Homo sapiens: one gene and its partner. The protein of the gene in region 1 purifies or fractionates together with the protein of each later gene. This does not show direct contact. Each region holds a gene or a part of one and is shown in the gene's direction. Other genes may lie near its edges.

Region 1 (3,653 bases):
GTAATAAAATTAAAACTCACAAATCCTCCATCTGAATATGGATTTGACTTACTGAAGGATTTTTTTTTTTAGTTTAGCAAGTTCATCTGCTGACAAGAGCTGACTTTAAAATAGGCATCCCCCATTTAGTAAACAAAAATTTATTTCCCTGTGCCTTTTTCATTTCGTTTGGCGTTTTACCATAGCTCTTAGCACAAGCCAGTGAATACATTATGGCTACAGGGAATACACTTTTAGACAAAATGTTCTCATATATGGACCATTAGAAGCACTCTTTAAAAAATGCATGCTGCTAACACTACTAATTGGCAGTAAACTGTAAAAACCTTAGTTATTAGCATGTAGCAAGTAGAAAGATTCCACCCCCCACCACATACCAACTTATTTTTTTTAACCTTCACCATTTAAGCATAGCAATAAGTTTCTATTTAATGGGAACTGACATTAATGATTTTAATTGAAGTCTGGCCAATCATAGGGCAAAAATTAATTAAAATACTGCTCTGCCAGATTATGGGAACTTAACCACTGAGATATAAACTAAACTATTTTCTAAAAATTATTTTAATATTCATCTCTCCAGAGGTAAGATGTTTTCAGTTTTCAGGTTTTTTAAAAAACCATACATTGAAATACATAAAGGTTATGTTCACATTTTGTGTCAAAAACTGACACAAAAGTTATGACAGTTTAAAAAAGGAATTTATGCAAATTTCAGGTTCTTTACAGTGTATAGATTAAATAATGCATATGTTTATAATGCTAATATGAACTCTTTGTAAACCTGGATATTCTGAGCAAAAGAAATGCACATGGCATAACTAAGCTATGTTGCATTTTCTTTCTTAAACTAACAATGAATTGTCAATAACAACTGTGTTATCTTTCTTCACTTGGAAGTATGTTTGTAACAACAGAAATGTTCCAAAAAGGATTTATAGTTGTACTTATTTAAGATACAAGAGGTACTCCCTTTCATTCAAGTGTATCACTTCTAGGAATAATTTACAAATTACACTTATATTTATGTTTTTTTAAATTTATATTATATTTATATTATTATAACATGTTTATGAATATTTATGTTTATATTTAAAATTTTATAATTTATAAAATTATACATTATATACACATAATGTATAATTTATAAAGTTAAATTTATAAATTATATTTATAGTCATGTTTTATGTGGAAATTATTTTCTGATTTCAGTAATCTTTTAGAAAAATCAGACTTTAGCCCATTTAAAGATTACCCTAAATTTTTAACCTATAAATACGCATTAATTTATCAAACTGATTCCTTTGATTTTATACATCAAAGAGCTCCAACTGCAAGTAAAGTTTTTATTATAGTCTTATCCATGGATTTAAGTCATATTATATAAATACCTGTTGAACATGTCCATAAATACCAATCATGTAACGTTTAAGCTAAACAAAATACTTAAGCTGAATGAAAGTTAGCACTTACTTTAAGTAAAGAGTAGAATGACAGATCAGATATTTAAACCAAAGCTACACATGAATTTAGATTTTCAACACAAAACTAATGCTTCACTATTAACAAGTAAAATCTTAGATCACAAATATAAAATATTATTAATGAGAGAGAAGTAGAAATGAGAAGAAAAAAAAAATCCCTCTCTATTGCTTTGATGACCTGATATCTTTCCTCACAATTCTGTCAGTTTATCTTTGATTATTTATGCTCTGATATTAATATTTTATATCCACATTTGCAATTATTTAGAAGCACGCATGTATTTGTTGCTTAGGTTTCCATAACAAAATACCATAAACTGAGCAGCTTTAAACAGCCGACATTTATGTTTTCACATTCTGAAGGCTAGAAATCTGAGATCAGGTTCCAGCATAGTTGGATTCTGAGGAGGGCTGTCTTCCTTACTAAGCCACCTTCTATCTGTGCCCTCACATAGTGGAGAGAGATCTCTTTCTCTTCCTCTTCTCATAAGGCCACAGCCCCATTGGATTAGGGCCCCACCCTTAACAACCTCATTTAACTTTAATTTCCTACTAAGGACCCTGTCTCCAGACACAGTCACACTGTGGTTTAGGGCTTCAACATATAAACTTATTCTGTCTGTAGCAATGTGTAATTTTTCCACTGTTAACAATATGTATCTCCTGTGTTACTCTTATATGCTGGCATTTTAGTGCACAACTCAAAAATTGAAAAAAAATTTCAGAAAAATCACATCTCTTCAAGTGACTTTCTACACCGTTTCATCACTAAATGATGCAATCTCAAAATCTGTTGCATCTGGAAAGGTTATTTTCAAGTAGATTAAAGTTTTCAGTCCCCCCTGCAAAGATGGACATGATTTAATTAGGCTAAAATAGTGCACTTTGGTTACTTCCTCTGATCCTGCTTAGGGCAAAAGGAGGAGATTTAGTAAATCTACAGCAGAAAGCCTATCCCTGCTTTGAACTTAAGCATGGTTTATATTTGTGAGGAATTTTTAATGCATTTTAATGTATTTTTTAATGTTTTCCTTTTATGTATTGTATGTGTTCTCTGCAGACTCCCAGGCCTTTAAACATCATTAAACAAAACAACGGTGAGCAGATTATTAGGAGGAGAACAAGAAAGCGCCTTAACCCAGAGGCACTTCAGGCTGAGCAGCTCAACAAACAGCAGAGGGGCAGCAATGAGGAGCAAGTCAATGGAAGCCCGTTAGAGAGGAGGTCAGAAGATCATCTAACTGAAAGTCACCAGAGAGAAATTCCACTCCCCAGCCTAAGTAAATACGAAGCCCAGGGTTCATTGACTAAAAGCCATTCTGCTCAGCAGCCAGTCCTGGTCAGCCAAACTCTGGATATTCACAAAAGGATGCAACCTTTGCACATTCAGATAAAAAGTCCTCAGGAAAGTACTGGAGATCCAGGAAATAGTTCATCCGTATCTGAAGGGAAAGGAAGTTCTGAGAGAGGCAGTCCTATAGAAAAGTACATGAGACCTGCGAAACACCCAAATTATTCACCACCAGGCAGCCCTATTGAAAAGTACCAGTACCCACTTTTTGGACTTCCCTTTGTACATAATGACTTCCAGAGTGAAGCTGATTGGCTGCGGTTCTGGAGTAAATATAAGCTCTCCGTTCCTGGGAATCCGCACTACTTGAGTCACGTGCCTGGCCTACCAAATCCTTGCCAAAACTATGTGCCTTATCCCACCTTCAATCTGCCTCCTCATTTTTCAGCTGTTGGATCAGACAATGACATTCCTCTAGATTTGGCGATCAAGCATTCCAGACCTGGGCCAACTGCAAACGGTGCCTCCAAGGAGAAAACGAAGGCACCACCAAATGTAAAAAATGAAGGTCCCTTGAATGTAGTAAAAACAGAGAAAGTTGATAGAAGTACTCAAGATGAACTTTCAACAAAATGTGTGCACTGTGGCATTGTCTTTCTGGATGAAGTGATGTATGCTTTGCATATGAGTTGCCATGGTGACAGTGGACCTTTCCAGTGCAGCATATGCCAGCATCTTTGCACGGACAAATATGACTTCACAACACATATCCAGAGGGGCCTGCATAGGAACAATGCACAAGTGGAAAAAAATGGAAAACCTAAAGAGTAAAACCTTAGCACTTAGCACAATTAAATAGAAATAGGTTTTCTTGATGG
Region 2 (3,653 bases), on another chromosome or scaffold:
GACTCAGTGCTGTGTGTGCACTGTCTCCTTAAATCCTCACAACCACCCTGTGGGACAGGTAGCATGATTTACCCTGAGTAAAGGAAGGTGAGGCTTACAAGGTCACAAACAGAATGCTTGCTGATTGAGCTGAGTTCTTAGCCACACCTTCATGCCAGTGCTCTTATCAGAACAGCTCCTTTTCTTTTTTTTCTCCTTTTCTTTTTCTTTCTGAGACAGGGTCTTGCTCTGTTGCCCAGGCTGGAGTGCAGTGGTGTGATCTCAGCTTACGAAGCCTCAATCTCCCAGGCTGAAGCAATCCTCCTACCTCAGCCTCCCGAGTAGCTGAGACTACAGGCACACACCACCACTCCCAGCTTATTTTTGTAGAGGTGGGGTTTCACCATGTTGCCCAGGCTGGTCTTGAACTCCTGGGCTTGAGATCCCCTGCCTCAGCCTCCCAAAATACTGGGATTACAGGTGTGAGCCACTGCACCTGGCCTCACTTTTCTTAAGCATGTATTTGAGAATGGTGGAACACTTTGCCCTGCTTTATTCACGTGTGGTTGACAGAAATTCATTGACCTCTTCTGTACCCTGGGCACTTTGCTAGGCACTGGGGATAGACTCAGGAACAACGTGGTCCCATCGCACAACCATCATGCAGTTTGACAGGATGGGGACAGCTTGGCAAGGAGACCCCAGAGGGAGTGGGGCAGGTGGCTGGCCACCCCTGACAGGCTGCCTCCACTCTGGTATGTCCTTGGTCCTCTGCTCCTGTGAGTGCTGTAGAGGGGAGGGGTGGGGAGTGGGGTCCACAAGGGCCAGTTGCCACTGACCATTTGCTCACATACATATATATATATATATATATATATATATATATATATATATATATATATATATATATATATATACATACACATACAAACCCTGAAGGAAGTATTGGCCAGCTCTGTGATAACTAATGCACTTACGAGTCCCTTTATAAGGTCACTAAGGGAGTAGTTTTTCTTTTGCATGGTTGTCCTCATGGGGGCACAAGAGAAGAATTAACATTTCTCTAATATGAGTCAGATTATTCTATTATCCAAAAGAGAGAGTCTAGGAAGTAATTTATTAATTATTATTGAGATGGGGTCTCACTCTGTCACCCAGGCTGGGGTGCAGTGGCAAGATCTTAGCTCACTGCAGCCTCCATCTCCCAGGCTCAAGTTATCCTCCTACTTCAGCCTCCTGAGTAGCTGGGACTACAGGTGCACACTACTGTGCCAGGCTAATTTTTTTTGTATTTTTTTAGTAGAGACAGTGTTTCGCCATGTTCCCCAGGCTGGCGGAACTTCTGAGCTCAGGAGATCCACCCATCTTGGCCTCCCAAAGTGCTGGGATTACAGGCGTGAGCCACCACGCCCAGCCGTTCATTAATTTAAATGAAAAAGAACACATGGAAGGTTCAGAATGATGAAAGTTTTCTGTTTATTTGGGCTCTTGGTTTCTATTCCCCCTGGATCTGCCTATTCTCAGCCTCATATAGCTCACTTGCTGTACGAAGCCTCGCTTCTGAGGTTGTCTCTTTTCCCTACGTTGGCTGAGGCTGCAGAGAAAAACACCTCATGCACTGTTTTGTGCTGGCATTAGTTACCTGAAAACTTTCAAATAACCCTGATCTGCCTGGATGAGATAAACTGAGAGCAAACACTGACTGCCAAGCCCTGGCTACTCAGAGAGGATAGACAGCAGCCACAGCACCCAGGAGCTTATTAGAGATGCAGGCCCAGGGTTCACACTCTGCATTCCAGCAAGACCCCAGGTGATTCAGTGTGTACACTAGAGCTTAAGAAGCGCTGGGCTAGGCCAGTCCCAGCCACCTGTACTCTTCCCAAGTGTGGAGAGAAGCACCCCAGGATGCCGTTTGTTCTTGTCCATTCCCAGTTGCCCGAGGCACATGCCTGTCAGTGGGAGCAAAGGCTCCCTGCTCCCCCGACACCCACCAGCGCTCACTGACTAGCTCATCTGCTTTCCTAAAACTCAAATATACATTTACATAAGTATCTGGGTCGAATTCAACATTTGTCAAAAACAGGCTTATTAGGTTATGGCTGAAACTCAAAGAAGGATACATATTTAAGGTATACAATTTGATACGTTTTGACACGTGTCTACCAGTGAACCCACAGCCACAGTCATGATGATAAACATCTGTCACCCACTGACGTTCTCCATTTCATTCTCTGTGTCCCATCGAATTCTCCCTGCCATCCCTAGGCAATGACTATCTGCATTCTGTCACTATAGGCAAGCTTGCGTTTTCTAGAATTGTACATACACAAATGGAATCATACACTACGACCTCTTTTTTGTTATTTATTTTGAGATTTATCATGAGTACTTTGTGTACTGTATCAATAATATCTTATTGCTGAGTAATATTCCATTGTATGAATATAACATAGTTTATATACTTGTGGATTTTTCAGAAACGGGGGGTTGTTTCTACTGTCTCACAGTTGCACAGGCCAGAAAGTTCTGGGCCGGCTTTTTCTGGTCTAAGATGTGATTTCAGGCAGTGGTGGAGTTGGCATCAGACAGCCGCTCTCCACAGCCCAGTTCTCAGGTGCCCCGACCATGCATCCCAGATGAGCCTTCCCGAAAAGGGACGCCTGCTCTCCCAAAGGCTGCAGGCTAAAAGGACACACTGCTGCCTTTGGGAGCTACCATAGGTAGGAATCTCTGTCCCTTCCTGAGAGCAGACGAAGGCACGGGTCCATGGGGTGACCTGCCCGTGGCCGGCAGCTGCACAAGCCCGTTGCCTTCCTATGCTCTTCCTCCTGTTTCTTGCAGAGTTCTTGCCCAGTATTGCCAGCATCAGTGTCAGCCCTCTGACGGAAAGGAAGTCCACTGCTGGTGCCCTGTGAGAGCGCAAAGCCTCCCTGGGCCCAGCCTGAGTCTTTTCTCAGGGAATGGGGAGAGCAGCAGGTTTGGGGTGGTGGGGATGCAGGTTTGTATCAGTGGTGCATCCTTGGATGACAGAGTGATTCAGGGTGAGGAATCAGTTTCTTACATGCTCCCAAGGTTGACCTCGGCCTCTGTGTGCTACACAGACCCTTGTTTAGTGTCATAAACCACAGCACCCACCTAACACTCTGGGAAATGATTTTTGTTTTGCAGGCTCTCCTAGCAGGCATGCGGAACCGTGAGAACAGCTCGCCCTGCCAAGGCAATGGTGAGCAGGCCGGCAGGGGCAGGAGCCTGGGCAATGTGTGGCCTGGAGAGGAGGAGCCCTGCAACGATGCCACCACCCCTTCCTACAAGAAGCCTCTGTATGGCATCTCGCACAAGATCATGGAGAAGAAGAATCCTCCCTCGGGGGACCTGCTAAACGTGTACGAGCTCTTTGAGAAGGCAAACGCCAGCAACAGCCCCTCGTCACTGCGGCTCCTGAATGAGCCACAGAAGCGGGACTGTGGCAGCACCGGGGCAGGCACTGACAACGACCCCAACATCTACTTCCTGATCCAGAAGATGTTCTACATGCTGAACACCCTCACGTCCAACATGTCCCAGCTGCACAGCAAGGTGGACCTGCTCTCCCTTGAGGTGAGCCGCATCAAGAAGCAGGTGAGCCCCACTGAGATGGTGGCCAAATTCCAGCCGCCCCCTGAGTACCAGCTCAC

The links.
Region 2: the proteins of TRPS1 (region 1) and BEND3 purify together in Homo sapiens (affinity purification with mass spectrometry; one large-scale study listed by BioGRID and IntAct). This does not show direct contact.

What each region holds. Positions count from the first base shown.
Region 1 is NC_000008.11:115,413,976-115,417,628, reverse strand, and holds part of TRPS1 (zinc finger transcription factor Trps1), read left to right. Parts: intron 1-2,544; coding exon 2,545-3,606; 3' UTR 3,607-3,653. UniProt on the Homo sapiens protein: Transcriptional repressor. Binds specifically to GATA sequences and represses expression of GATA-regulated genes at selected sites and stages in vertebrate development. Regulates chondrocyte proliferation and differentiation.
Region 2 is NC_000006.12:107,070,445-107,074,097, reverse strand, and holds part of BEND3 (BEN domain-containing protein 3), read left to right. Parts: intron 1-3,147; coding exon 3,148-3,653. UniProt on the Homo sapiens protein: Transcriptional repressor which associates with the NoRC (nucleolar remodeling complex) complex and plays a key role in repressing rDNA transcription.